3 linked regions of the Homo sapiens genome follow. The protein of the gene in region 2 purifies or fractionates together with the protein of the main gene of each other region. This does not show direct contact. Each region holds a gene or a part of one and is shown on either strand. Other genes may lie near its edges.

The links.
Region 1: the proteins of BMAL1 (region 2) and BCAM purify together in Homo sapiens (affinity purification with mass spectrometry; 2 studies listed by BioGRID and IntAct, with this or other methods). This does not show direct contact.
Region 3: the proteins of BMAL1 (region 2) and LRFN4 purify together in Homo sapiens (affinity purification with mass spectrometry; 2 studies listed by BioGRID and IntAct, with this or other methods). This does not show direct contact.

Annotation. Positions count from the first base shown.
Region 1 is NC_000019.10:44,803,807-44,813,666, reverse strand, and holds the start of BCAM (basal cell adhesion molecule isoform 1 precursor), read right to left. Parts: upstream 4,565-9,860; 5' UTR 4,543-4,564; coding exon 4,461-4,542; intron 2,443-4,460; coding exon 2,321-2,442; intron 1,505-2,320; coding exon 1,276-1,504; intron 1,190-1,275; coding exon 1,119-1,189; intron 418-1,118; coding exon 321-417; intron 230-320; coding exon 47-229; intron 1-46. UniProt on the Homo sapiens protein: Transmembrane glycoprotein that functions as both a receptor and an adhesion molecule playing a crucial role in cell adhesion, motility, migration and invasion.
Region 2 is NC_000011.10:13,370,343-13,380,221, reverse strand, and holds part of BMAL1 (basic helix-loop-helix ARNT-like protein 1), read right to left. Parts: intron 8,060-9,879; coding exon 7,813-8,059; intron 6,128-7,812; coding exon 6,021-6,127; intron 4,611-6,020; coding exon 4,460-4,610; intron 3,678-4,459; coding exon of another isoform or gene 3,583-3,677; coding exon 3,494-3,582; intron 1,901-3,493; coding exon of another isoform or gene 1,886-1,900; coding exon 1,777-1,885; intron 1-1,776. UniProt on the Homo sapiens protein: Transcriptional activator which forms a core component of the circadian clock.
Region 3 is NC_000011.10:66,851,821-66,862,307, reverse strand, and holds LRFN4 (leucine-rich repeat and fibronectin type-III domain-containing protein 4 precursor), read right to left. Parts: upstream 5,245-10,487; 5' UTR 4,564-5,244; coding exon 3,215-4,563; intron 2,672-3,214; coding exon 2,113-2,671; 3' UTR 1,833-2,112; downstream 1-1,832. Other genes in the region: PC (pyruvate carboxylase, mitochondrial precursor), read left to right, coding at 8,925-9,069, 9,472-9,561, 9,648-9,869, 10,362-10,487. UniProt on the Homo sapiens protein: Promotes neurite outgrowth in hippocampal neurons. May play a role in redistributing DLG4 to the cell periphery.

The sequences.
Region 1 (9,860 bases), on a different chromosome or scaffold from region 2:
AGGTGTGGAGCCTGAGGTCAGAGGTCAAAGGCCAGCACAGACTCACAGTGCAGGGTGAGGTGGAAGGTGGGGCTGTCCAGGCGGCCGTGGCGGCCCTCGGGCAGGCTGTAGTGGGCGGCGCAGTGGAAGCTGGCGTCTCGGTCATCCTTGCGGAGCCGCAGGTAGAGGGTGCTGGTGAGGGAGAGCAGGCCCGAGGCCTCCCGGACCGTGCGGCTGGTCATGTAGCCCTCTGGGAGAGATCGGGGGAGGTGGCAGTCAGCCAGGCCATAGCCCCGCCACCCACCCCAGCCCACGTCCCGCCGCGCTCCTGCGCTGCTCACCTGGGTTCATCTCTACGGGCACCTCCAGGCGCTGCCCGTTGCGATACCACGTGATCTTGGGGGCCGGGTTCCCGTTCCGGCTGTTGCAGGTGGCGATCTGAGGCAGACACGGGCATGGCCCTGGGCTTGGAGCTGGGACTCTGAAGTCGGGGCTCCTCTCTCAGGAGTTCTCCCCACTCAGACTCATGAGCCGGGCTCCTAACTCCCGACTCTCCCAGGACCCAGGAGTCCAAATTCCTAGTCCCCGACTCAGACTAAAGAGTCCAGGCCTCCAGCACCATCCTCCAGGGACCAAGGATTCTGGGTCCCCCAGCTCTCTCCTTCCTAGGACACAGGAGTCTTCCCCCTCTGCCCTTCCTTTCTTTTTTCTTTTCTTCTTCTTTTTTTTTTTTTTTTTGAGACGGAGTATTGCTCTGTGGCCCAGGCTGGAGTGCAGTGGTGTGATCTTAGCTCACTGTAGCCTCTGCCTTCTGGGTTCGAGTGATTCTCCTGTCTCAGCCTCCCGAGCAGCTGGGATTACAGTTGCACACCAACACACCCAGCTAATTTTTGTATCTTTAGTAGAGACGGGGTTTCATTATGTTGGCCAGGCTGGTCTGGAACTCCTGACCTCAGGTGATCCGCCTGCCTCTGCCTCCCAAAATGCTGGGATTACAGGCATGAGCCACCTCGCCTGGCCTTACCCCTCCTCCTTTATTACCCAGGGGTCCCCAGCCCCTCCTCCCTCAGACCCAGGAGTCCAGGGCCCTGTCCCCTCCTCCTCCAGGACCCTGGGGCCAAGGTCCACCCGAGAGGTACCTCCTGGGCAGAGTCCTCCATCACAGACAGTGTCCCTTTGTTGGGGGAGACCTCAGTGGCCTCTGGCTTTGCTGTGAAAAAGACGTTCACGTCAGGAGCCCCTGCCCTGCGCCCCTCCCTGCCTGCCTCCCTTCGGGGGATGCCCGAGGACACTTACCAAACACGTTGAGCCGCGCAGTGGCCTCAGCAGTGCCTGCCGCCCCTGCCCTCACCACGCACACGTAGTCTCGCTCGTCGCCCACCTGGGCCTCAGCCAGCACCAGGCGCCCCTGGGAGTCCAGCTGGTATGGGGGACTGCGGCCCCGGGTGTCGTGCATTGTGACCTGGAGCTCAGAGCCCTGCATCTCAGCCGAGGCTAGGCGGGGGCGAGCTCCCGAGCGGTCGGTCTGTGGGCGCGGGGCAGGCTCTCAGCTCCGGGTGTCCCAGCGCTCCTCAGTCTCTCTCTCTCTGGGTCCTTTCTCTCTGCAGCTCCTGGCTCTGCCTCTTTTCCTCTTGTTATGGGTCTCCCTGGTCCCTCTGTCCCTCCCCACCTTCTCCTGCCCCCATTCCCTATCAGTTCTTGATTTTTCCTGTCTCCTTTTCTCCATCTCATTCCGGTCCCATCCCTTCTCCTCTTGGTCTCTCCCTCTCCCGATTGTCTCTCATTTTCTTTCCTCTTTTTTTTTGAGATAGAGTCTTGCTCTGTCGCCTGGCTGGAGAGCATTGGCTCGATCTCGGCTCACTGCAACCTCTACCTCCCAGGTTCAAGCGATTCTCCTGCCTCAGCCTCCTGAGTAGCTGGGATTACAGGCACATGCCATCACGCCCAGCTAATTTTTGTATTTTTAGTAGAGACGGGGTTTCACCATGTTGGTCAGGACAGTCTTGATCTCTTGACCTCGTGATCCACCCGCCTCGGCCTCCCAAAGTGCTGGGATTACAGGCGTGAGCCACCGTGCCTGGCTTCTGCTTTCTTGATGTCTGTCTCTGTTCTCTCTCTCAAGAGCCCGCAGTCCAGAGCAGGTCAATGTCATTCTAGACTTGGCTGTGCCTAGACACGGGGCACCTTGCAGATCCCTTCCCCTCAGTGGGACTCAGTGACCCCATCTGTAACAAGGAGTGTGGCTTGGTGGATCTCTACAGGCCTTAGGCACTGATGAGAGAATGAACCTTTGCTGCCCTGCTGTGCCCTGACTCCAGGCCCCCCAGCCCCAAGCACTCACAAGGAACCATTCCAGCATATAATGGTCGTGGGTTCCCGTAGGGGTGCAGTCCAGAATGACAGACTTTCCTCGCATCACCTCCACCAGCGGGGGTACAGACAAGCGCACCTCCGCCTGGGCATCTGCAAGAGAGCAACTGAGCTATCATCCACCACACCAACAGGAAGAGCCCTCCAGACAGGGTCCCCTCTCCCCCAGGACACAAGCGTCCAGGTCCCAGCCCCTCCTCCCTCAGACCCAGGAGTCCAGGTGCCAGCCCCTCCTCCCTCAGACCCAGGAATCTGGGCCCCTGTCCCCTCCTCCCTCAGACTCAGGAGTCTAGGCCCCAGCCCCTCCTCCCTCAGACCCAGGAGTCTAGGCCCCAGCCCCTCCTCCCTCAGACCCAGGAGTCCAGGCCCCAGCCCCTCCTCCCTCAGACCCAGGAGTCTAGGCCCCAGCCCCTCCTCCCTGAGATCCTTTCGCCCTCCATCCCTTCTCCCTGCATCTCTGGGTCTCAAATCCATCTCTCCCTGCACTTGCAGAGCTCAGGGCTCCTCCTCTGGGCTGCACAGGGCCCTGTGGCCTCCGCTGAACACTCCTGGGGTAATACTGCACCAGCCTTTGCTTATCCCAACAGAGCACACGCCACCCCCCAGGGCAGGGCCAGGCCTGGCTCAGCCATTTGCCTCCAGCACCCTGGGCAGGGCCACCTCTGTGATGATGGATAAATGTTTCTCTCCATCCTGGTCTCCACCTTTGCGTGTGTCTCTCCTCTTGGGTCTCCATCTCTGTCCCTGTCTCTGCCTCTCTCTGCACCTGCACCACTCAGTCCCTGGGTCTCTTCCGCTCTCCCATGAGTGAGGGGCTGGGGTGTGGGCTGCGGCTGGGCCCGGAGCTTAGGCGGGATGGATGTGTGGGGGCGGTGAGGGGGGACAGGGCTGGGCAGGTTTCAGGAATGTGGGAGGGACAGGCTGGCTGAGACCTGCCCGGCCTGGAGCCAGAGCCCCCAGCCGCCTCTTGGCCCCCCTCAGTTTGATACAACAGCAAACGGGATAAGTCGAGTCATCTTGCAAAAGGATAAGGTTGAGGCCCAGGATCTTGGGAAGCTGGGCACCTGGACTCCTGGGATCAGAGGGAAGAGGAGGCTGGGGCCTGGTGGAGTAGTTATTGTAGAAAAACCACCACCCTCCCTCACCCTCTGGGCTGGCATCCTGGCATCAGCTCTCAGTGCTTCTTAGAAACTCCCTTCCCTTCTCTGCTCAATCTGGCCCAGCCCTACCCCTGGGGACCCACTGTTGACCATGAGTGTGCCAGGGGCCTGGATTCCCAAGCGCTCACCTCTGGCCCCAGCCTGTCCCCAGGGAGGGGTGACGGGGTCCAGGCTGGTGCCTAAGGCTGGGTCTGATCTGCAGACAAGTGGAGGCAGAGAGTTCCTCTCTCTTCCCCAATCTCTCTCATCTCTCTGTCCCTCTGTCCCCAGCACCCCCACCCCCACCCCCCAGCCCCCGGCCTCCTCTCCTTCTATCCTCATGCAGGTGTGTAAATGTAGCTGAGGCCCCAGGAAGGGGGCCTGTCACTTGGAAACACTTTGTTCCACTGTCACTGCCCGGGGCTGGTGCTCCAGCCCTTTCCTGAGGGAGGCGGGTTCTTTATACTGGACTCTGGAAACTCCTAAATACATGTGGATCGCTGGTGTGGGGACACATGGTCCTCGCTTCTCTAAGGGGTCCCTGGACCTCTCAAAACTTGAGGACCTTTGAGGGAGAGAGCCCTGGGGTTTTGATCCTCTGTGCCCTGGGGGAAGCTATTCTAGCCACTGGAGGCCTGGACTCCTGGGTCTGAGGAAAGAGGGGCTGGGGGCCCAGATTCCAGGGTCTGAGGGAGGAGGCAGGTGGGACCCAGATTCCAGGGTGCTGAGTGGGAAGGGGGCTGACTTCTCTGGTTGTCTCTGATCCACCGCCTGGGTATCCCCAGCTCTCCTGCCTGGCTGTCCCCAGATCTCTCTCACTGGAAGGCGTACCTTCCAACACTCCCATATCCCTCCTCCTTGGGGTCCCCACATTTTGCTTCCTGGGGTCAGGGTAAAGCCCTTTCTCCTCGCTTTCCCGGGGTCCCCAGGGGCCTCTCCCCAGTCCCACCTTGCCCTCAGCCCGAGCCATACCTGGGTGCGCCGCCAGCAGGACTGCGAGCAACAGCAGCCGCGGGGCCCCGCGCGCCTGGGCCGGTGCGTCCGGGGGCTCCATGTTCACGGCGGCGGCGGAGACTGAGCCCGGGCTGCAGCTCGGCCGCTGCGGGGCTGGGAGCCAGAGGCCCCGCCCCCGGCAGCCCCGCCCCGCCCCGCCCTCCAGGCCCCCCTCGTCCCCCGATGCCCGGGCGCGGGGCCAGGACCTCCCACTGCCCGGAGCGGACCTCCCAGTGCACGGGGCCAGGCTCGGGGCTCGTCCGCCCCCAAGCCTAGAGCTGTCCGGGCTTACTGACCAGCGCCTGCAGCGGGGGGCCTGATCGACCAGCGTAGCCAGTGACCCGAGCTGGGATCTCACCAGGCAATCGCGGACCTTCTCCTCGTTATTCTGACCAGGGGCCTTGGGGACTCGTCCCCACTGTGACCAGCAGCCTGGGCTGGCATCGTCGATTTTAACCAGAGGACCCCACTGCAACCTGTGGCCTGCGATGGCCTCTCCCAGTGTAACTAATGGCCCCAAGCGTGCCGTCCGAGTGGCCTGCACTGGCCTCTCCCAGTCCAACCAGTGACCCCCGCAGCCTGACCAGTGGCCCCCAGCAGCTGCTCCCAGTATGCCCGGAGATGTTTTCCCCTGTGGTCAGTGCTCTGGGCTGCTTTCCTCGTCTGACCAGTAGCCTGGAATCAACCGGTTTAATCTCTTATTTTCAATGGTCTTCAAATCCAGGTCCTCCTAGGCCGCTTCGATGATGGGGCTGGGGGTGGGGTACGGGGTGCCCTCTCTGCTTGCTCACCCATGGAAGGCCCTCCCACTCTTCCCCCTATCCAGGGAATCCCAGGAATGCCACCCTCCCTTCCTCCTTCCCGCTCTCTCCTTCATTCCCTCCCAACCTTGTGGGGAAGGGAGGAGTCAGACTGGCCAGAGCAGGTGAGGAGGGCAGGGGAAGAGGCCAGGGCACCTGCGGGAAGGGGGAGGAGTCCAGCCACTGCTAGGAAGCGTGGGTCACAGGTCCGACTGCCCAAGGCCCCTACAGGCCAGGTCAGACTGGGACAAAATCCCCCACTAGATGTCACTAGTTGCCCAGGACAGTGGTCAGAACGTGGGAGGGTGGGGGGTCGCTGGCCACACTGGGAGAGGTTACCCAAGCTTCTGATCAGCCTGGGGGTTGAGGTAGCCCTGGAGCTGGGCTTTGCCTGCTCAGACATACAGAGAAGGCTTGGATTACAGGTCAGCCTGGGAGTTATTAGACTGGTCAAGGTTACTTTATCCATTGGTCATACAGGAGACCAACGTTTTTTTTGTTTGTTTGTTTTGTTTTTGACAGGGTCTCGCTCTGTTGCCCAGCCGGGAATGCAGTGGGCGCAATCATAGCTCATTCAAACCTCAACCGCCTGGGCTCAAGCAATCCTTCCACTTCAGCCTCCCAAGTAGCTGGGACTATAGGCTTGTGTTACCATGTCCAGCTAATTTTTGTATTTTTTTGGTAATAGAAACAGGGTATTACTATGTTGCCCAGGCTGGTCTCCAACTCTTGGGCTCAAGTGATCCTCCTGCCTTCCAAAGTGCTGGGATTACAGGCATGAGCCACTGCATCCATCCTACAGAGCAACTGTTACATTGGGAAAGACCTTTTAGGATTAACTGTACCATCCCCTCCTCCAGGAAGTCCCCTCTGCCTTCCCTGGCTGGGTCAGGTTCCCCCTCTGGGCTCCCCCACCTGAGCCCGGCACACTCTGGGGGTCCCTGGCTGGGGATAGGTCTGTCTCCCTCAGTGGACTGTGAGCCTGTGAGGGCAGGGCCAGGGATGTCTTGATCACTGTGGTGAGCTAAGGGCTCCTCCCCTGGGCACCCCGCCCAGCACAAGACCAGACACAGTGCAGGTGCTCAGGGAAGGTTTGTTTGCAAGGCACACAAACTCACGTGCAGATTCCATCCAGACTGGAGCATCCCAGGATATACAATACAAACTCACTCATGGGGAATGCGGCGGCACTCCAAGACAGTCCCAGGTGCTGTCAAGCTCACACACTGTGAGCACCGACACCCATACCCTAGCTCTTCTGTCCCCAGCCTGTGCACCTTCTGTTTGGGCTGGACCCTGGTACATGCCCTCTCAGCAGCCATCGCCCACTTCCACCTCCCTCAAGAACCCAGCCAGCTGAGGCTGGGCGCTGTGGCTCATGCCTGTAATCCCAGCACTTTAGGAGGCCGAGGTGGGTGGATCACCTGAGGTCAGGAGTTCGAGACCAGCCTGACCAACATGGTGAAACCGCATCTCTACTAAAAATACAAAATTAGCTGGGCGTGGTGGCACATGCCTGTAATCTCAGCTACTCAGGAGGCTAAGGCAGGAGAATCGCTTGAATCTGGGAGGTGGAGGTTGCACTGAGCTGAGATCGTGCCACTGCACGATGTTGCCTGGGCAACAAGAGTGAAATTCTGTCTCAAAAAAAAAAAAAAAAAAAAGAAGAACCTAGCCATCTGAGGTTCTGGGTGAGGGAGGAGAACTCTATGGCATGTGTATGAAGGAGAAAAGTCAGAAACACCAAAACAGCAGCCGTGGACCCTTGCAGACTTGCAGAAACTAGTCTTGTAACATCATCTGCCTTTGTCCCCTGTAATTTATTCTCACAAAACAGCCTGAAGGATTCCTTTTACATGTGAATCAACTCATGTCACTCTTCTGCCCCAGGGTCCTCCCATGACTTCTGTCTCACTTAGGGTAAAAGCTGAGGTCCAGGTCAGCCGCAGGGACTCACGTCTGTAATCCCAGCAATTTAGGAGCCTGAGGCGGGAGGACTGCTTGAGCCCGGGAGTTTGAGACCAGCCTGGGCAACATAGCGAAACCCCGTCTCTACAAAAAAATATAAAAATGGCCAGTCATGGTGGCCCATGCCTGCAATCCCAGCACTTTGGGAGGCCGAGGTGGGTGGATCACCCGAGGTCAGGAGTTTGAGACCAGCCTGGCCAAAATGGTGAAACCCCCTCTCTACTTAAAATAAAAAAATTAGCCAGGGGTTGTGGCAGGTGCCTGTAATCCCAGCTACTCGGGAGGCTGAGGCAGGAGAATTGCTTGAACCTAGGAGGTGGAGGTTGCAGTGAGCTGAGATCATGCCATTGCACCCCAGCCTGGGTGACAGAGCGAGACTCAGTATCAAAAAAAAAAAAAAAAAAAAAAAAAGTTCTAATTCCATCCATGCGGCCGCAGGTGTATATCCTCACATATTTTAACTAACAAGGCTTATCTTTTCTGAAACTCTGGGCTCAAGCGATCCTCCTACCTCAGCCTCCCAAAGTGCTGGGATTATAGGTGTGGGCCACCACGGTTGGCCAGACTTACCTTTTCATTGTTTTTGAGACAGAGTTTCACTCTTGTTGCCCAGGCTGGAATGCAATGGCGTGATCTTGGCTCACTGCAACCTCCGCCTCCCAGGTTCAAGCAATTCTCCTGCCTCAGCCTCCCAAGTAGCTGGGATTACAGGCATGCGCCACCATGCCCGGCTAATTTTGTGTTTTTAGTAGAGACAGGGTTTCACCATGTTGGCCAGGCTGGTTTCGAACCCCTAACCTCAGGTGATCCACCAGCCTCAGCCTCCCAAAATGTTGGGATTACAGGCGGAAGCCACAGTGCCTGGCTGACTTATCTTTTCTTGACCTTTTTTCCCATTATTTTTCACACAGTGTGTGACGATTAACTTTACAACTAGCTCACAGCTTGTGGAATATGGGGAGAATGACATATTTGGAGGGGAATGGTTCTTCCCTGATTCCAGTCTCAGATCTGGAAAATGGAACTATTGAAATTTTTTGTATTGGGTGGCAGTGTGAATGCATTTTTTGATTGTACAATGAGAGACGGTTGTGCGGGGAAAGTTTCGATAAGAACTTCTGCAAAGGGCCTATTGATATTGAACATTCAAAGCCAGCTGTGGTGGCTCATACCTACAATCCCAGCACTTTGGGAGGCTGAGGCAGGTGGATCGCTTGAGCCCAGGAATTTGGGACCAGCCTGGGCAACATGGCAAAACCCTGTATCTACAAAAAATACATATTAACCGGGGGTGGTGGTGGTTTGTGCTCGTAGTCCCAGCTACTCAGGAGGCTGAGGTGGGAGGATCGCTTGAACTGGGGAGATCAAGGCTGCAATGAGCCAAGATCGTGCTACTACACTCCAGCCTGGGTGAAAGAGTGAGACCTTGTCTAAAAAACAAAACACAACAAAAAAAACCAAAGGAGCGGGCTATAGTACATATTTTGCGGGAAGGATTACCTAGCATCTGCAGCTCCTTCCCACATTTAAGGAAATTCCTACTGTCTGAAAGCCTCTGTTGCCCACTCTTGAAGCCAACAAGAATGGATGTTTGCTTTCCTGCATCTGTTGGAGCTAAGGTGACTTAAGCTTGGCAAATCCTTCCACACTTTTGAATATCAGGAATTGGCCACCTCTTCCAGCCATGCATGGCAGCTGGGACAGATTCTGTTTTCCAAAGACGGCTACAACAATCTCTTTCTTTTTTCTTTTTGAGACAGGGTCTTGCTCTGTCACCCAGGTTGGAGTGCAATGGCATGATCATGGCTCACTGCAGCCTCGTCCTCCAGGGCTCAAGTGATCCTCTCACCTCAGCCTCCTGGGTAGCTGTGAGTACAGGTGTGCACCACCACTCCTAGTTAATTTTTTTTTTTTTGTAGGAATGGGGTTTTGCCATGTTGTGACAGTGTCTTTCATCCCATGTGTGTTTCCACAATGAGAGCTTGATACTCTTTCCATCAAGAGCTGGGGTCTATGGCACCCTCCTCTCAAATCTGTGCAGTTTGGTGACTTGCATACAACCAACAGAATTCAGCTGAAGTGAAGTTGCGGAACTCCCAAAATGAGCTAGAAAAGGCCATGCAGCTTCTGCCTGGGTCTTCAGCGGCCATATAAAGTTTGACTACCTTGAGGCAGCCATGCTGTGGGGAAGCCCAAGCTGGCCAGTGCAGAGACTATATGGTGGGGGAGGCCCTGAGACCACAGAGAGATGCCCACTTGTCCAGCACCCCCAGCCGCCCTGTGGCAAGCATCACTGATTGCACTGTTTGTTTGCATCCTGAGCCAAAACAAACCAGCCACGCCTTTCTTCAAATCCCAGCCCACAGCAACCATGAGACTTAATGCAATGATTGCTGTCATTTGCGGCTAAGTTGTGAAGTGATTTATTACCAGCAACAGCTAATGAGAAGAGCAGCCATATCCTATTTCTGGGGCAGCAGAGGCAGCGAGACAACTACAGTGTCTAGTGGCCATCGCCAGCATGGCCTCATCAGACCGGTTCCGTGGTGTCACTGTGGCTGGGTTACCATTGCTGGCCAGTTGCCAGGATTCTTCCTGCTCACTTTCCAAT
Region 2 (9,879 bases):
TGTATTCTCAGCATGCACAAACGGCTGCTAATTGCTTACGGAAAAATTGCTGAGTGTCCCCCACCTTTCTCTACTTATGTCTATGAAACCACTATTTTCCCAGGTTTCTCATCTTGGAATTGCTGTTTCATCATTCCTGATTTCATCTTCAAACGCTAGACCTTAGATGATTGATTTCTCTTTTGGCAGTGTCATCTCTGTAGGATAAGGCCTCATTCCTGAGTTGTCAAACATGCCCACCTTCATCTCTCCCTATTCCAATGCAACTTCCACAAAGCGTAACACAAGACTTTGGATGCTTGTTCAGCATCCTACAACAAATGGGGTCTTACAGGTTTCTTCCAAACTGCACAGTATCATTTCTTGTGTTTCTTAATCGCCTATCATAGCTCTGTGTCTCCTTCCTACACAAAGCCTGCCCAGTTAGGTAGCTTGTTTCTTGACCCTGAATTTGCCACTCACATGCCCACTCAAGAATAGCCCTGGCTTTTCTAGAGGGAACATCCACTCTTATTGCAAACCCTGGCTAAGGCCAAGTTCAAATCTTTCCTCTTTTGCTTGCTTTGGCCCATGCACCCTCCCTTTTTCCTGTTATCATAAAGAAAATAGACTTATAAAAGATTTTAAAATTCTTGAGGTCAAGGACTGTTTGATACTGTTCTTGGATGGTCTCAAGCAAAATACAGGGTATGCAAATGCAAAGTATAGGGTTTGAACCTGATTACACTGCACACTACCCTCATGTCTCCTTCCTGATGCAGAAGTCACACCCACTAATCCTGTGGGGTTGGAAAAGAGCTGTGTTACCTATAGGGGGATAACAGCCCCTTTATGGCCAATTGGAAAACAGGCCAGCCTCTAATTCTCCTGAGAGAATCCAGCGGCAGCAGTGTTTTCTTCCTTTTCTTATGTTACATTAAGTTTCGTTCTGAAGAATCTGGTTACCACCTTCTCTATTCCCCAAATTTGGACAGACTTATGATAACTGCTTCCCTCTCGACTGCTCTTAAAGACAGATTTAATTAATTTTTAAGCACTCACTATATGTCAGGCTGTGTTCCTGGAACTTTCCTGAGTGCCCTCACAATCCTAACACAATTCTTGGGAAATAGTGCTTTCTTTTTATGGTTTAAATCAACAGAGAGCAAGAGGTTAAGTAAGTCTCAGCATAGCCAGGTAGAGAGACAGGCCCAGGACTCAGACCCAGGTGGACTGCTTCTAAGCTCCTTCTCTTTCATATGGAAAGGAAGTCTCTCCCAAGACAGCTAGTAATAACTAGCTGATCTGCTTGGTTTCTAGTACTAATCCTGGGCAGCTCTTTGATTGAAAAAAAGTGAATGTTTTGTTAAGGTCCAGATCACTCTGATAGTTCACAGCTCTACTCCTGCATTCCTGTAAAGTAAAGGTACATCTATCCGCACTGAGAAGCTCCTTGAGCCATAAGAAAGTTAAGTCTTCTCAAGAATTCTCTTTAGCGCTGGGCTATTTTGGTTTAGCTTCTTTATTTAAGGCAGGATTTCTTAATCTAGGCACTACTAACATTTTGGATTGGATAATTCTTTGTTGGGTGGGGAGGAGGGAACTGTCCTGTTTACTGTAGGATGTTTAACAAGCAGCATCCCTGGTCTCTATCCACAGGATGTTTAAGTAGCAACCTCCCACCCAGTTGTGAAGACCAAAAATGTCTCCTGACATTGCAAAATATTGCCTGGGGGAAAAAATTTCCCTGGGTTGAGAACCACTGGTTTAACAGAGGAACTAGAAGGTGTTACTTGCCTGTGGATTTCCATGATTTCCTCAGCAATCATTCGGCCTATTTTTCCTGCCCCAGCCCGGGTTCCCCCTGGAATCCCTGGAACAGTGGGGTGGGTCCTCTTTGGGCCACCTACAACAAAGGAATCTGAGAGTAGGAAAGGGGAAAACTGAGGAAGAAATACTATTATGTATTAAAGTAAAACCAGTTTATCCCATGATCCATTTGCAGTTCAACATCAGAGTTGTGCCTTGAGGGACTTTAGGGCTACAGCTTGTCAGGAAAAGGCATTCCAGCAGGGAAAGGCTCAAGTTTCCTTCTAGGATCTGAGGCCAGTTTTTTCCCTTCATACAGCATCTAATTCTTTCCCTTCATGCACTGAAAAAAAACGTTTATTGAAGACCACTGTATGTGCCAGGGTTACAGAGACAAGTCCCTGCCCTCAAGGAGCTCACAGTTTAACAGGAAAACCAACAAGATGAACAATGGCTAAAGCAAAATGTTGTAAGTTTGACAGGCAAGCACGAGGCAACCAACTCATCTGGGGCCAGGTGCAGCTTCTGGAGCAAGTTAACCCCGAGCTGAGTCTTGAGAGATGAATATGAATTAGCTTGGCAGAGAGGTAAGGAGGAGAAAGCATTCCAGGCACAGCAACCAACACGTGCAGGAGCACTGAGGCAGGTTAAAACTTGGGAGACTCCTCCAAGGAATTCATCATAAATGATGATGAGAGCATGATAGATGAAACTGGGGCAGCAGGTACCAATCCGATCATGAGGGGCCTCTTGGATGCCGTACTAACGAATTTGGACAGTTTCCACAAGGGAATGAGGAGTACCAAAGGACGATACACAGAAAAGGCACAAATGAGAACTGGGTTATTAGAAAGTCCACGGCAGGGAGAATGAACTACAATGGAGGATGGGGTGGGGAGAGGGGGACTAGAGTTGCGAAGTGATTTGCAATAATCCAGGCAGCAGATGAGGAGGGTGAAATAGCAATAGTGGTGACGAAGTTTAAGAGATAGAAGGTTCAGGACTCCGTGTTTAGATATAATGGGGGAGAGACAACAGCCAGGTTTCTGGCTTAAACAACCAATCAGGTAGGGGAGTGCAGAAAATCAGCTTGGGATATTCTGAATTTCAGGTGCCTCTGAGACTCCAGGTGGTTCTGTCTATGAGGCATTTGGAGAGACAGATCTGGAGCTCGGGAGAGAGACTGGGCCAGGAGATGTGGATGTGGGAGTCATCGATGGGGGCTGCAGCCATGCATGTGGGGATGGTCCCAGGAAGGATGAGTCCAGCGTGGACAGCAGGGGCAGGGCCAAGGCTGAGCCTGAGAAGGGAGCCCAGTGGGTATGGTACACACCCTGGTGCCGAAAGACACCTGCCTGCCAACCACAGGAGTTAGTGACAGTCACGAAAGAGCACTTCACATCATGGCCACTAGCCAACACAGGAGGAAAGCACAAGGGGAGTAGGGAGTTTGCGAGCTCAAGGGCTTCCAGGGGCCAGCAGCTTTGGGAAGTGCAGCAGTGAGCTCCTAGTATTCCGGCTCAACAGAGAAAGTGACATGACAGTGTCCTCTGCATTCATGGGGAAATCCGCACATCATCCCCTCGAGGCCTCCCTTGTTCCACAGAATATGAATGGAGGGGACCCTGAATACTTTAGGGGAGGATATTTGACCACAAGCACCTTCCCACGGGCAAGCCCCAGGGCCCCAGCAGCACATAGTTACCTTCTCCAGAGGGCAGCATGCTGTCCATGCTGTGGGGGGATGCTGTGAGCTGTGGGAAGGTTGGGTCCCCGCCTTCCAGGACGTTGGCTCTGTGAACATCCCAGCAATAAGGAAACGTGAGTCAGGCCTGCTCAGAACTGTGCACCATTCAACTTGGCCAAGGTGTCCGGTGTCCACTCTGGACCTGGACAGGCCAGAAAATGAAGTGTCTGTCTGAGTGGGTAAACAGGTCTCACTGTTTGATAATATAATGGATAGCATCCTGGCCTTTGGCCCCACTGCCTGCCTAGGCCTTCCTAATATGTGTGGGACACAGTTCAGCAGAGGTGGTGGCTGCAGTAACCTACTGCCATCATTACAGCACCTCCTCCTGCCAGCCTGCAGTGCACCTAGCCCCGGCCCCTCACACAGCTCTTACCATAGGTGGGGTTTTGGACACTATGGGGAAGGAAAAGTGGGGAGCAGGCCTGGCCAAAGAGAGGCTCCTTCACCTCCCTCTGCTCATCTAGCAGGTAGCAGCCTTTTGAGATGGCATTCCAGCTGCCAGTGCTTGGGCCCCCTGCCTGACAGGTATGGAGACCTCCCCATCCTCAGCCAAGGCCAGTGTGAGCTAGTGCCTGAATGAGCCTTTCATAGATTGCCAACCCCTTCCTCCACAGCAGCACAAGTGGATGCCTAGGGTGCAGGGCCTGTGGAATTCAAAGGTTAGCTGCTTTATCTGGAAGGAAATGTTGCTATTTCCTGGAGCAGTTTCATAAGCCAGGGCCTGCATGGTACAAGTCCTGAAGCTTGTCCCTTTGTTAACAATCCTTTCTAGCTTCTGCCAGTCCTGAGGCTTCACAGGTATTAGCAAGATGGCATTAAAGGATGTGATACTGGATGTTGCCTGCACCCCATTTCCCAGATGAGGAACCCTAGGCATCTGTTTGAAGCAAGGGGAGCTTCAGATATAGGAAAAGTACTTACAAAACAACAGTGTTAGTTGAGACAATATATTCTACTTCCTTGGTCCAAGGGTTCATGAAACTGAACCATCGACTCCGTAGTGTGATAAAAGAACCATCTTTGATTTTAAATTTATAGCAATTAGTTGTAATTTTTTCTCTCGTCTGTAAAACTGAAAATGTAAAGAAAACATGGACATTGTTGTTTTCTCAGACCAAAGTATTAAACAGGACATCCAATACAAAATATTAAAGGTACTTGAGCTCCAACGACATCGCTCTTTAGTAAGCCAAGGAAACTGCAGTGGTCAACACTCAGGAAATAGGTTGTTTCTGAGGGTCTAACTCAGAGCCTTTCAATTCATTTGTGAAGCTGTCATGATTTTCCATAGTCTGTAAAATTGAGGCTCTAGGGAATTACTGACTGCATGTTATACATCTAACTGGAATCAGCTCTAACATGACCACCAGCAAATGAGAAGGCACTGTCCAAAATGTCATGCTTTATCTCAATCACAAAGCCCAAGGGCAATATAGAACTTATCTCATTTCTAAGAACATCCAAATCAACAGAGGCTACTCACCTATTCAACCTCATTCTTTCATGTAACATGTAATGAGCCCTTCTCATGTGCCAGGCACTGGAGATACAAGAGGAGACAGGCTATGACTCCTGCCCTCAAGAAGAGTAGTGAGGGAAGGCTATACAGGGAGAAGAGATCAGAGCCTTGAGGGATGAACACGAGTTTGCCAAGAGAAGGAGGGAGGGAAGAACCCAGCAGTGCCTGAGGAGCAGCAGGGTCTGGTTGGGGAGAGGCCAGTGAGGTCAGTGTGCCTGGAGCACAGGCCTCTGCAGGCAGGGATGGGGACTGAAACTGAGGAGGTGGGCTGGGGCCAGAAGGTGGAAGGTCTCACATTTGATTGCCTGTCAAAAGCATTTGGGCTTGAGTCTAAAGCAGGAGGTTTTTAAGCAGGCTGATGTTACCAGGCTCAATCTATCTGGGGATAAATAGGATAACTATGGAAGATGAACTGGGGGTGAGAGGGATCAGAGAAACCCTGAGAAGTCTATCACAGGTCTCTAAGTAGGCACGAGGGCCTGAACCAGGGTGATGGCAGAGGTGGTAAAAAGTAGACTTTTGGAAATGCATGTCTGAGGTGAATGAACAGGATCTGGTGGAGACACAGTGAAAGAAGGGGTCAATGTTGGTCTCTCTCAGGAGCCTGCACATGAAGCCACAGCATTAGTCAAGACAGAAAACACAGGAGGTAGTGCAGGCTTGAATGGAAAAGAGAATCAGATCAGTCTGGGCCATACTAAATCTTTACAGGGTCTGGGAAAACCCTCTGAACAAGAGATGTCTTTCAGAAACTGCCATGCAGTCAGCACAGGGCAACTACAAGGGGGATAAACAGTGCCTGCAGGTATCAGCTTCCTCTTCACACAGATGTTCTGACCTGAAGAGTCCTAGGCTGGCTGACTCTACATCCTCAGTGGACAGATTTCCCTGGAAGGTCATGTTGACTAGTCTAGAAGCAAGGGGACACTTTCAACTTAAGATCTTTCATACATCCTAGCTTACCTTGCCTATGACATTCTGCAAGATGTCCTATGTCATCTTGGTGAAAATATTCATAACACGATGTGCCTAGAAGTTCTTGTGGTAAATATGCCAAAATAGCTGTTGCCCTAAAAGGGAATAAAGGAATATTTAAAGAAGAAAAAGCCATTCAGATGATTAATTGCAACTTTGCAATGGATAAACCCTGCTACAGCCTATGAGAGCAAGGTCAAAGCTGCAGGCAAAAGAGCTGGATGGATTTTCAGAGGGCTCACTGTGTGGATCTTTCTCTCTTTTTTTCAGGCATCTGAATTTAATCAAGGCTATAAAAATAGAGGGAAACAGAGCAAAGCCTTTGTAAAGGGACTATTATCACAAGAAATCAAATCTGAGGGGGCTTTAAAAATTGCAACCAGTCGGGCATGGTGGTTCATGCCTGTCATCCCAGCACTTTGGGAGGCCGAGTTGGGCAGATTGTCTGAGCTCAGGAATTCAAGATTAGCTTGGGCAACATGGTGAAACCCTGTCTTTACCAAAAACACAGAACAATGAGCTGGGTATGGTGGCACATGCCTATGGTCACAGCTACCTGGGAGGCTGAGGTGGGAGGACTGCTTGAGCCCGGGAGGTCAAGGCTACAGTAAGCCAAGATCTCGCCACTGCACTAGATCTAGCCTGGGTGACAGACTGAGATCTGTCTTTAAAAAAGGAACCACATTAATTAGATTAAAATGTGGTATAAATCTAAACCTCAGTGCAAGGCTTCTAGTTTTTGCTGCCTCCTTTTTATCAGGACAACCAAATGCCAGAAGCTGCAGCAGCTGAGGCCACAAGACAGCTGAGGCTGTCTCTTTTTCCAGCATGTTGTGGCTGTCTCTAGTAGCCAGAAAAATTATTAGCCTGTGCATATTCTGAGGGAAAGCAGTAGGCAGCAGTAAATTTGGGACACCTGGGTCCTTGGTCCAGGTCTATTACCAATTAATTGTGAATCCTACAGGAGACCAGTCCCCAGGCTGGCCTCTGTTCTTCATCCATAAAATAAGGAGGTTGGATTAGATCAACGCTGTCCAACAAGACTTTCTGTGATGATGGAAATGTTCTATGTCTGTGCCGTTAGCCACATGGGAGGCTACCATGGCCAACGAGTATTTTATTGGACAGCTCAGGACTAAATAATTGCTTCCAAGTCCTAGATTCAAAAGAATTTCAATCACAATAATGGTTCTGGAACATTCCATAGATTCAGACAGCATGCTATCCCTACTGTTTTTCTTTTAGCCATGGACATCAAGGCACCCCACTTAATTGTCTCTATATGCCAAAGAATGACAGAAAAATCTCTGTATTTATGATGATATCCTATTGAATCTCATTTTTTAACAGAGACTCTCATCATTTGTCTCTTTTTTTTTGAAACAGGGTCTCACTCTGTTGCCCAGGCGGAAGTGCAGTGGTGCAATCACAGCTCACTGCAGCCTTGACCTCCCGAGGCTCAGCTGATCCTCCTGCTTCAGCCTCCAGAGTAGATGGGACTACAGGTATGTGTCACCATGCCTGGCTAATTTTTGTATTTTTAGTTGAGACAGGGTTTTGCCACGTTGCCCAGGCTAGTCTCAAACTCCTGGGCTCAAGTGATCCACCCACCTTGGCCTCAAAAAGTGCTGGGATTTGAGGTGTGAGCCACTGCACCCAGCTTTTTCTTTCTTTCTTCATTCTTAGAAAAGCCAGCTGATGGCCCAGTCTTCTCTGCTTTTTAGATCAGGGTTGAAAATCCTCTACCATCATTGCTCAAGGGTAGTATGTAGACTCTTACCTCTGGTCTACAAAAACAAACTTTCCATCTATCGCGTGCCGAGAAACATATTCCATAGATTTCACCCTGATTTCCCCGTTCACTGGTTGTGGAACTACATGAGAATGCAGTCGTCCAATTGCGACGAGGCAGCTGAGGTTACACCCCTCATTGTCTGGTTCGTTGTCTTCATCCAGCCCCATCTTTGTGGGTGGCCAGCTTTTCAAATAGCCTGTGCTGTGGATTGTGCAGAAGCTTTTTCGATCTGCTAGAAAGCAAAGTTCGTGGTTAGTGTCAGCACTAGGTTTGGGCCATGGAGGTGTACACGGCCGATGGTGGGATGGGATGTAGGTAGGGAGTCAAAAAATAAAAAAAAATCAAGGCTTCACTCTCCAGAAGTAAGCATCTAATGAAAGGGGCAGACGGAAAGAGAAACAAACTGTCATCCAGTGTCAGAATGCTTAAGTAGGGCCAGTTATACCATGGACATTCATTACATACACCAAGGAAGGAATATCTAACTCTTCCTAGGGAGAGGAAGGCTCCCCCAAAAAACCAGTAGAGGAGGTGGATCAAGAAGGATGAGCAGTGGCTGAGGGACTAGAATGTATAAAGGCTGATGACGTACACAGGCACAGAGGCACAGCCTATATAGGAACTGGCCAAGAGCTCTGTGTGGTTGAAGTGAAATTGGAGGTACTGGGAGTGAGGGGCAAATTGGAAAGGCAGGTTGGAGGAAGATTAAAAGGGCCTTGGATTACTTTCTAACCAATGTTGGTCTGTCTTTTTAAGGCAGGAAATGGAGAGCATCTACAGGTATTTAAGTGCAGAAACAGCAAAATCAAATTGTGGTTTGGATGCTGTAGGAGCAGAGTGACGTATGAACTGGAAGACAGTAGAAAACAGAAGTAGGAAGGCTGATTCAGGGGCCAGTGGCTATAATACAGCAAGAGATTAGGAGGACTGAACTATGGCAGTGCAGTGAAGATGAGAGGGAGCAGAGAAAGAAAGCAGGAGAAATTTCTGAGATCAAACTGTTGGGATTTGCTGTGAATATCAGGCTTAAGGGAAAGAAACAAATGAAGATGACTCTAACTTTTCTGGATTGGGTGGTTGCTGGTGTCATTCACTGACTCAGAGAAGAAAGAAAACAGACTAGAAGAGAGAGAGAGAAAAAAGATAGTTCGATTTGGGACACATTAAATGTGGAGCACCTATAGACTTCACCAACAAGCAAACCACTATGGAGTGTCTGCCAAGCGTGGAGTCTGTGCTGGTTACTGGAATAGAGTGAAAAACAAATCAGACATGCCCTTGTGGAGTTTACAGCCTAGTGGGGGAGACAGACTTTAAACAAATAATCGCACAAATAACTATATAACAGCAAGTATAAGAAAGCACTAGAAAGCAAACCAGTAGGGTGCTATAAGACATAAGGCAGTCTGAGGTTGGAGAGAGCCATGTGAAGGGAGTTCATGGGGAGAGGGAAGAAATTCCAACCAGGAAGCGACAGCATGTGCAGAAGCATTGCCCAGAAGGGGCTTGAGGCATCAAAGGAAGTCAACATGGCTCACATGTGCTTAGTGGCAGGGTCGGGGGCTGCATGGTCACGTTAAATATTTTGAGCTTTTCTTCAAGAACAATAGGGAACACTGAAGGGTTTTTAAAAGGGGACTGATAAAAAGATCATCCTGGCTGCTGTGTTGGGGGTGGGGAGCATGTGGGTCTACACTTTATGAGACCTGGTGAGAGTTGGGGGCAGCCTGGAGCTGAGTGAAAGTAGGCAGCATGGAAAGGGACAAACATTTCAGAGAACTTTTGCAGATGGGACTCATTGTGGCAGGACTTCATAACTAACGGGATTGAAGAGTGGGGTGGTGAAGCAGAAGTGAGGGCACCTCCCCGGCTTCTAGCATGAGCAGCCAGCTGAATGGCAGTGCCATTTATGCTGGAGGAGAGGCTCAGGTGATTACTTCGGCACGTATCCTGTTGGAGACTCCCCTGAGATATCCAAAGCAGGTTGATTTAGTAAGCAGTATATTTATGAATCTGGAGTTCAAAAGACAAGTCTAGGCTGGAAATATGAAT
Region 3 (10,487 bases), about 53 Mb from region 2:
TTAAGAGGGAACAGCGCACTTCCTAGAGGCCAGGGGGTGTTACTCTTCCGTGGGGAGCCTCTCAGCCTCCCTGTTGGGGGTCCCTGTCGTGCACATAGGCAGAGGTGTGTCGCGACATCAGCTGTCGACATCACGCGCTCCCCCTGCACCTTGCTGCGGCTCCTGGTGTCCTGGCGGGGATGTCCTGCGGCTGCTTCGGTGTTGAGGGGATGCGTGGCCATGCACAGGGGTGACCCAGGCCATCCCCCTCGCCTGCCCCTGCCCGTTGCTCTGTGGTCCTGGCTGGCTCCTGGGGTTGTGCCCGGTTCCTCTGCTCCCTCCTCACCCTCAGCAGCTCCCCACGTGCCAAGCTGGTCCCTGGGCCCTAGAACCTTGCGCCTGCTAGGGGTGCAGCTAGAGGTGGGCTTCTGCACCCTGGAGGGCCCGGAAAGATCTTCCTCTTTAGACCGTCCCCCGCCCCCCAGGTGGAGAAAGGGGCACTAGAGACCGTGACCACGGGGCCAGCAGCAGGATAAGTGTCTCTGGTGTCTGGGGGTGCCAAGTCCTCCCCAAATGTGCACCAAGACCAGGCCGCTGGCTCTAGCCGCCTCCTGAGCCTCATGCTAGCGCCCAGCGTGGCAGCCCTGGCCCTCCTGTCCCTTTGCCGTCTGTGCCCACCCACCCTGTCCCGCGCCCCCGCCCACTCCTCCATGGCGTTCGCTCCCCACACCCTTCTCTGTCGAGGACCTTGCTCCCATTCATCTAAACCAGGCTCTCGAAGCCCACCTCTAGCTGCATGTTCTGGGGCTGGGAGGGCAGGCACACGCGTGTGAGCCAGGTCCATGCACACGTGAACACACGTATGCCTTAGAGCACCTGCCTCACCTCGGCTGCCCGGTGGCAGCGCCTTGGCCCTCACACAGAAAACACCAGGGAGTCTGTGCAGCGTGTTTGCCGTGGCCTGGGGTGCCAGGGCCGCCTTCTGAGTTTTCATACAGCACCTGGGGGAGCTTGACCCTCTGCAGGGCTGAGGGCCACGTCTGCCCATGCCCCCCAGCCAGTGCCTAGAAGCAGATAGTTCAGGAGGCTGCAGGGGCTGGGCCAGGTCGGAGGCTGCCCGGGCCTGGCCAGGGGTCCTAGCAGAGAAAGCAGGGCTCGTGCCCATCCGGCTGCCTCCCTGCAGCGAGGGAGGGCGAAGGCCGCCTTCCCAGGAAGGCCCAGAGCACATCTGAGCTGGCAGCTGCGGTCCTGCTCGGACCCACAGTTCTGACAGGAACCTTCCAGAGGATCACGGGCTGATGGCAGAGCAGTGGGGTTCCCTGCCCTTCCAGTCCCTTTGGGATGGCGTTTTACCAGTCCACAAGATGCCCTGGGAGGTGGCAGACACAGCTGTCAGCACCTGGAGCCATGAGGACTTTTCACTGTACGCTCAGCCCAGGTCCGTTCTCCCAGAGGGCTGTACCGTCCCCCACCTCCTCCTGTTGCTTAGTCCAGTCCTGTGTCCGCCCCGCAGACCCTGAAGTGCCATGGGGAAGGCGCTCACACGTGCTCCCCAGGCTTTACACTGGATACGGCGTCCTGTCGCCACCTGGCAGGAAGGGGCGTTCTTTGCACTTACAGGCGAGGGTAGGCCGCCTGCCCAAGCCCATGCTCTTGCAGGTCAGAAGACACCAGGCACAGCCCTTGGCCGCAGCCCTGGGCCGCCCCTGTGGACAGGAAGCCAGGAGGCCCCAGGCTGCTGTGACTGCCCCCACCGGCCCTGGTAGCCCCACCCTTGTCCGTGTGCCACCAGCGGCCCGTGTCCTGTCCTCCCGTCTCGGGGGACCTAGCCAGACAACACCAGAGACTAGCACTGAGGTGTCCCCAACAATTTTATTATAAATAAAAACAAGACTCCCAGTGGGTGGCTGCAGCCCCTGCCTCGGTGGCTGTGAGCACCTGTTGGAGGGGCCTGCCCTTACCCTGGTCTGGAGGCCAGAACCGAGGAAAGGGCTCCCTGCCCCTCCAAGTACACAGGGGAGCCTGAGGTACTGAGAATAAAAACCAGGGAGGGACTCCCAGGCCAGGCGGCGGCCCCGGGCCCTCTGCCCCACGAGGCTCATCCCTTGGAGCACACAGGAAGCTGCCCGTCCATCACACCACACTCTCTTCCAGCCGCTCGGCGCTGCCTCCTACCCCCCGGCACCCTGCCCCGAGCAGCCCCCCATGCACAGAGTGGCTCCGTCGGGCCCAAGCTCCTCCCAGGCGCCTGGCATAACCGTAGCACCCGGCATCTCCCAGGTCCAGAGAGCAGCTGCGCTGCGGCCGGGGCGGGGGGCTCCGCGGCGGGTGGGCCTTGGGTGTGGGGCTGGGGCCTCCATTGGTCTGGGACTGGACGTGGCTGAGCTTGAGGGGGAGGCGGCCATTTCCGGCCCCCCGGCCCCGAACCAGCAAGGCCACAGTGAAGACCAGTAAGGCAGCCACCAGCACACCCCCCACGGCCACGGTCAGGGTCCCGCCCAGCACGTGGGCCTGCAGGGCGTGGCACAGGGGCGAGGCCGGCAGCGTGGAGAAATGGGCACAGCCCAGCAGCCTGGTGGCCGTGAGGTCAGAGGGCCCAGCGGCCGGTGACAAGGCCAGCAGGCAGAGGTCATAGTCAGCGCCGGGGACGAGGTGCTTCAGCAGGAAGTGGTGGCTGGAGGCTGGGACAATCCTGCAGGCAAGGGCAGGTGGTCAGAGCCCGGGGCTGGGGTCTAGCCCCATCCTCACCTCCCCACTCCCGTGCTCCCAGCTCCAAACACCCCTCCCCCTGGGGCCACTCGGGCTCTTGGGTTCACTCAGGAAGGTGAACAGGCTGGAGAGTGTGGCCAGGAGATGGGTGTGTGCACTGGCACAGGACGCAGGCAAGCGAGGGGAATGGGGTGGGGGGATGGCACCAGCAGAGGCAGAAATAACACGCGGGCGCGGGCCATGTGCTTCAGACAGACCCAACCGCCACCTGCTGCCGGGGAGGCCTGCACAGCTCAGTGACACCTGGGACATCTCGGGGTGGGGTCCTTCTGCCGCCCCTTGAGCTCCAGCCCCCTCAGGCAGCCAGGCCAGGCCAGGCCACTGCTCCTCCAAGAGTCCAGCAGCCATGGTCGGGGAGGGGGTGTCAGCCCCAGAGAGAGGAGGGGTGGAAGCAAAGCCTTGTGGGGAGCAGAGGGCGGAGGAAGGGCGCCGGGAGTGCAGCCGGGTGTGGGGCACGCATCCTCACCGGTAGATGAGGGTCTCATCTTCGCTGCTGTTGTACTGGATTTGGAACATCCACACTGGGTCGGCTGGCCGCCCGGGACCCCAGCTCACCAGCCCTGAGGTGGCGGTCACCTCCGTCACCTGCACGGCTGGCTCAGACTCCAGCGTCCCCTCACCCTCGGCAGCAGTGCGAGCGGAGGCGGCGATGTCCGAGGGCCCGGGGCGGCCCCCCTCGGCACTGCTGTTCCCACCATGGGGCAAGGCCAGCACCCGCAGTTCTACTCGGGCTGTGGCCTCACCAGCAGGGTTGGTGGCGATGCAGGTGTAGCCCCCAGCGTCCCCAGCGCCGGTCACCCCAATCTCTAAGGTCCCGTTGGGGAAAGCCCGGGCTCGGGAGGAGTTGCCAACCAACCGGTCGTCAGGACCGACCCAGTGCATGGTAGGCGCGGGGTCACCCAGGGCCCGGCACCGCAGCGTGGCCCGCTGGCCTTCCAGCACCCAGAGGCGCTGCGTGTGGCGGGCAATGAGGGGCGGCTCACAGGAGAACTCGCCCTCGGGCACTGCCCAGAAGTAGCGGCCGGCCAGGCCGGGCGGGGAGGCGCACGTTTCCAGGTCGTCCGGCCGCGCCAGCCGCCGCAGCCACAGCAGCTCACAGTTGCAGTGCAGGGGGTTCCCGCTAAAGCTCAGCACCAGGGGGGCGGGAGAGGCCTCTGCATCACGCCCACGAGAGAAAAGCGGGTCCGGAGCCAGCGTGGCCAGGCGGTTGGAGGTGAGGTCCAGGCGGGAGAGCTGACCGAGCTGGGCGAAGGCGCCTGGGGGCAGTGCGTCAATAAGGTTATGGTCCAGGTTGAGGGTGTGCAGGGCAGGCATGGCGCCGATGCCGGCCCAGGGCACCTGCCGGAGGTTGTTGTAGGACAGGTCCAGGTCCTCCAGGCTCTCTAGGAAGTCGTCGAAGGCTCCCGGCGCGATGCGGCCCAGCTGGTTGCCGCTGAGGATGAGGTGCTGCAGATTGACGGGGCCCCGGAGGCTCCCGGTGCCCAGCTCCACCAGCCTGTTGCCGTCAAGGTGGAGGGAACGCAGGCTCTCGAGGTCCCCAAAGGCGCGGGCCCCAATGCGGGTGATGGCATTGCGAGACAGTGTCAGGTCCACCAGTCCCGTCATGTTGCGGAAGTCAGGGGGCCCCAGGGCCTGGATGAAGTTGTCAGCCAGCCGCAGCTCCACTGTGCGCCGGTCCACGTTGGGCGGCACAAACAGCAGGCCTCGGTGGGCACAGAGGGTGCTGAGCGACTCGGACAGGTTCTGGCAGACGCAGGGCAGCGGGCAGGCGGCCGCTCCACTGGCCAGCAGCAGCAGCAGGAGCGGCGGGGCCATGGTGAGCGCCCTGTAGGAAGGGGCCACAGCCCAGGCACAGGTGGGGCTGGCGCAGGTGCCCACTTGGGCCCAGGACAGTCCCAGAAGCCAGCTTCTGTGAGCCTGGCCCGGGGAGGGGCTGGGTCAGAGGCCCAAGAGGGCCGCCAGAGATGAGGGAAGGTTGGGGCCTGCAGGGCCAGGCCCCCCAGAGCAAAGGTCACATTTCCCAAGCAGTTAAGGGGGAGTCCAGGCGCTGGGGACAAGGTGAGGCATGAGGCAGGAAGCGGAGGAGGACCGAGAGCAGGGAGGGTCCCGGAACTTCCTTTCCCAGGCGTCCCCAGGAATCGCCAGCCGCCTCCCCACTCCCCGCCATACCCTCCCCCGCCAGAGAAGGCGCCCCCCGAACCTCCCGTGGAGTCCGTGGCCCCTCCCTGGCCGGCCCCCGCGCTGCGCCCGGCGGCCCCCTCACCTGGTGTCCGTCGCTCAGGGGGCGCGGGCCGGCCTCCCTGCGAGCCCGGCCGGCCCCCGCCGACTCCTGGCCGCTCTCCCGCGGGGACGAGGCCCGGGGATGACCGGCCGCCCGCCGCCCACCCTCGGGCCCATGGCGCTCGGGCCCGCGGCCCCGGCTCGCTCGGTTCCCGGCACCTTTTCCCGGCGCGGTTAGCGGTGGCGGCGGCGACAGGCGAGCGGGTGCGCGCCGGCGGGCGCGCGCGCCGCGGACACGCACGTGGAGGGCGGACGGGGAGGGGCGCGCGGGGATCCACCCGGGCCCGGGCCGGCTCCTGAGGTCACGGGGACACGCGGCCGCTGCAGCGCCCACGGGTGGCGCCCAGTCACGCCCGAGGCCCGGGCCGGCGCGGGCCCTCCGCGCTGTCCCCCGGCGCTGCCGCAGCGCACTCACCCTGGCACAGGCGCGCGCGCCCCCGGCCATCCTGGCGCCCCGGCATCCTGCACCGCACGGGCGCCCGCCGCCGCGGCGCGAACCTCACTCTGCAGACAGCCAGACAAAGCGCCTGCTCGCGGGCCCCTTCACCATCTCCCGGAGACGGGCGTCTTTGTCACATGTCGCTGGGCACCCTCCCCAACACACCCACACATGCCCACACACCCACACGTCCCTGCACCCACGGGCAGGGCCGAGCGCAAACCCGCACTGTTGCTGGGACCCTTGCGTTCACAGACACACGCTGAAGGTCATAACCGTTCTGCATCACCGAGTCACGTGGAGGGTCCCCAACCGGCACGGGGTTCGGCCGTGGGGGGGGCTGGGGCGGCGCCCCTGGCAGGGCTGCTGCGGGGTGGGGCCGAGAGGGCTTGGCCTCCGGGCAGGCGCCCCGCCCCCGCCGCCCCGCCCTGTCCCCAGCTGCCTCTCGCCTCTCCCTCCCTCCCCAGCTGCCCCGCCCGCCCCGCGGGCCAGGCGTTCCGGAGCCAACCGGCCTCCGCCTCGGGCCGGATTGGTCTGCGCGGCGCGGCTTCCCAACCGCCGGGGGCACGCATTGGGAAGCTGTGCGTCCTCGCAGCGCCTGCGGCCCCTCCCTCCCGCTCTGTCGCCGCCGGGCCATTTCCCTGGAAGAGCGGCTCGGAACCAGCTCCTCTCAGAGAAAGGGCTCCCGGCGTGAGGTGGGGGAGGTTCTTTGCTTCCTGGTTGAGAAAGCTGGGGCTTCGGTGGCTCGGCGAGCCTGGTTTCCTTCCAGCTGTGCCCGCCACCACCAGTGGTCTGCCCAGTTGGGAAACAGGAAGTCACCACCTCCCCGTGTCTCCTGGTCCTTAAGCCACCTAAACCTCAGCCATCCTCGTTCTCCCTCCAGCCCTGATCCCCATGGGCCAGGTGGCAGGAAACTCGGGGAAACCCAAGATTGGAATTCTGATCCTGTCAGCACAGCAGTGTAGTCCTGGGCACGTTACCTGACCACTGAAAACAAGTTCCTCCTGTAGGCCAGGAGAGTTGGATGGTACATACATAAGCATTTCCTAGGGGCGAGAGGGGAGGACAGCTGCAGCTTGTGAGGGGCTTACAGGCAGCCAGAAGCCATTCTGTCACCACTCACTGGGCCTCAGCTGTGGCGTTTGTAAAATGAGGGGGATTCAGTCCTGGTGCAGGTCAACTCTGATGTGCAGTGGCACCAGCTATGTCTTTGTTCCTCTTCTCCCCATCAAAAATGTTTTCCACCGGGTGCAGTGGTTCATGCCTGTAATCCCAGCAGTTTGGGAGGCCGAGGCGGGTGGATCACTTGAGGCCAGGAGTTCCAGACCAGCCTGGCAAACATGGCGAAACCCCATCTCTATTAAAAATACAAAAATTAGCCGGGCGTGGTACCGCATGTCTGTTGGGATGAGGCACGAGAATCGCATTAACCAGGGAGCCACAGGTTGCAGTGAGCTGAGATTGTGCCACTGAATTCCAGCCTGGGCGACACACTTTGTCTCAAAAAAAAAGTTTTCATTCACTCTAAATATAGATGTTTACCAGCATCCACCATGGCCACCCAGTGCTGGGAGCCGGGTTCATCAGGAACCAGATGGGCCTGGTTCCTGCCCCCATAGAGCTTACAGTATGGAGGAGAGGATGGGCAACCCGACAGTCACAAAGGGGAGACTCAGTGGGGACCCTCCACATGACTCGGTGATGCAGAACGGTTATGACCTTCAGCGTGTGTCTGTGAACACAAGGGTCCCAGCAACAGTGTGGGTCTGCGCTCAGCCCTGCCCGTGCAGGTTCCTCAGCGGCCTGCTGGAAAGGTGAGCATCAGCTCTGCCGAGGGTGTGAGGACAGGGCGAAGGCCTCCAAGGGTCCTTCTCACTCTGCGCGCTCGGGGCTCTTTGGATGGTTTCATTAGCTGCCTCCCTTCTCCAGTGCCATGCCTTGGCCCAGCTGAAATGTCAGCATCTCTTCAGGAGAGGCAGGGGCGAGGCTCAGGGGCAGACAGGCACAGCACTGCTGGCGGGGTCCCACTCTGTGGTGAGCACCTGACAGGCTGGTGGGGGAGGCACCCTTCCTGTCCAGGCCTCCAGGTAATAGGAGCCTAAGAGACGGAGAGCTCAGAGGAGTCTGGGTGGCCTTGAGTCCCTGTTGAAGGTGCCGACAGGGATCATGAATAAGTGACGCGTGGAGGTGTTTTCTTCGCGGTGGAAGCCAGGGCTGTCGCTACACAGCCACAGGCCATGCTTTCACAGGTCTTGGAGCACCTGTCACAGTGCTGGCTCGCATGTCCCCGTTTAAGTCATACTCACCCTGGCCCAGCCTCATGTTGTCACCCAGGCATTTAATGAGTGGAACCGAGGGCCCCTGTGCACAAAGTGCACTGACACATGCCTCAGGCAGCACCCTGCCCCCAAGGGTTCCCAGGCAGACAAGCAGAGGATGAAGCCGATGGGTGTGCTTGCCCACAGCGGGTTCCTCAGGGGACTGCTGGAAAGGTGAGTGTCAGCTCTGCCGAGGGTGTGAGGACAGGGCGAAGGCCCTTGAGAAGTTCAGGGAGAGCTTCCCAGGCAGGTGCAAAGGTGTGGAGCGCAAGGCAAGTTTGATGTGGCTGGAGGTGGCCACAATGAGGAAGGCGGTGGAGGGTGTGGCCTGGAGATGGAGAAGAGGTCACAAGGTCCCAAAATGGCCGTGGTCGAATCCTCTGGCTTGACCAGTGGCATGGGAGGAGTGGGTGATGAGGGTGATGGGATGCAGGTTTTGGTAACTGGGGGGACAGTGGGGCACCCACTGGGCACAGGAGGACTGGGTGCATAGGCAGGAAGCTGGCCGTGGACTTGCTGAACTTATGCGAGGGGTGAACAAGGAAAGGCCCGGGAGGCAGTTGCACCTCTGGGTCTTGCCCTGGAGGCAGAGCCTGTCACTGGCGCCACAGCCCCGGGACGGGGCCTCCTGGGGAGCATGTGGTGTGTGAGGAGCTGGGGAGGAAGAGGACAGGAGAGCAAGATGGCTTGGAAGCCCAGGGAACGAGCAGCAAGGCGGGAGCATGCCCGCTGGACTCAGCTGGGAGGAGTGACTTAGAGTGCCAGAGTGTGGTCTGTTGCGGTCAAGGCCCTCTTTCGAGAAGCGTGGACGAGGGGCAAGGGTGACTGCTGTGGGCCACGCTGCTGGAGAAAAAGGCTGAGCCCTGTTCTAGGCTGCGGGGAGGCAGGAAGGGTGGCCTTCAGCACATGCTTTGGTGTAAACAAGTATGGAGGGAGCAGGCCCAGCCCGTGACAGCTTAGGGGGCTCTGCTGGAGTGAGGAGAGGGCTGAGGGACGGGGAAGTGCCCCTCTGCAGGGAGGCCCAGAAGCTGTGCTGGCCCAGGGCAGCATCTTCAGCCTTTTCTCTTTCAGCCTTTTCTCCTCTGCCTTCCCTGTCTGTGCTGCATGGTGACCCCCTCCCACCCGCCTCTGTCCTGCAGACCAACATCGCCTTCCTGCAGAATGTGCTCAACAACCAGCAGTTCCTGGCAGGCACTGTGGACACCCAGTTCATCGACGAGAACCCAGAGCTGTTCCAGCTGCGGCCTGCACAGAACCGGGCCCAAAAGCTGTTGCACTACCTCGGTCTGGCCCGAGACTGCCCTGCCCTGCCCTCCCCTCCCCTCCGCTCTCCAATCTCTTGCTCCTACCTCCTTGCCACTCCCCATGACCAAAGAACTCCTTAGTGCCCCCTGCCCCTCACCCCTGCCCTCATTCTGGCCCTGCGTCCTCTTGTCCTGCACCCTGCCATTCACTGCTCTCCTTGCTTCTGATCTGAGAGACCCCACCTTTCCATCCACGTGGTCCTCAAGACGTCCCCACTGCCTGTACCCAGGAGGCCCTGGCTTTGGAGAGGACAGGGGCCAGCTGGAAGCCCGGGGATCCTGGAGGGATGTGTCCCTGTCCCTGAGCCCAGCCACTCTCACTGCTGCCCTCGACTCAGCCTCTGCCCAGCCCACCCTGACCCACTGCCCGCTTTCTCCCCAGGCCATGTCATGGTAAACGGTCCAACCACCCCGATTCCCGTCAAGGCCAGCCCCAGCCCCACGGACCCCGTTGTCCCTGCAGTGCCCATAGGTAGGTGAGATCCATTCTGTCAACTCATGGGGGAGACAGGAGGTTGCCACCTGCAGGATGGGCACCAATGCCCCTGTCTACCCTAGGCCCGCCCCCGGCTGGTTTCAGAGACATCCTGCTGCGAGAGGGGCCTGAGGGCTTTGCTCGAGCTGTGCGGAACCACCCGGGGCTGCTGCTGATGGACACGACCTTCAGGGACGCCCACCAGTCACTGCTGGCCACTCGTGTGCGCACCCACGATCTCAAAAAGATCGCCCCCTATGTTGCCCACAACTTCAGCAAGCTCTTCAGCATGGAGAACTGGGGAGGTAGGCTGGCATGCTGCGCAGCGCCTGGTAGGAATGGGCGCCCGCTCTGTGGCCAGTCCCACAGGCTTAGGCCACTGGGGACAAGCTAGAGACGCTGACACGAAGAACACCAAAGAGGAAGGACCGAAGAAGGCACAGCGCCCTCTCCGGCCAGGCCTGGTGCCGGCACGAGGTTGCAGAGCTGAGACCAGGTGCATCCTGGGAGGTCCAGGGTCAGGAGGAGACACCTGCCTGTTAATTATAGCACAGAGAGGTAGAGGAGAAGATGGGATTATAAAGGGGGCATAGAAGGGACACAAATGAGCCTGGTCTCCCCCTTAGAGATCAGACAAGGGAAAAATCTGTGGGGGTTGGAGCAGGGAACACAGGTATGGCGAAGATGAGCAGGACCTGGTATTGGGGCCAGAGGCTTGTGCTGCAGAGCTAGCTCCAAGGCCTGGTGGAGTTCCCCAGGCATGCAGAGCTGATCTGGGCCTCTCGGTTCCTGTGCAGGAGCCACGTTTGACGTCGCCATGCGCTTCCTGTATGAGTGCCCCTGGCGGCGGCTGCAGGAGCTCCGGGAGCTCATCCCCAACATCCCTTTCCAGATGCTGCTGCGGGGGGCCAATGCTGTGGGCT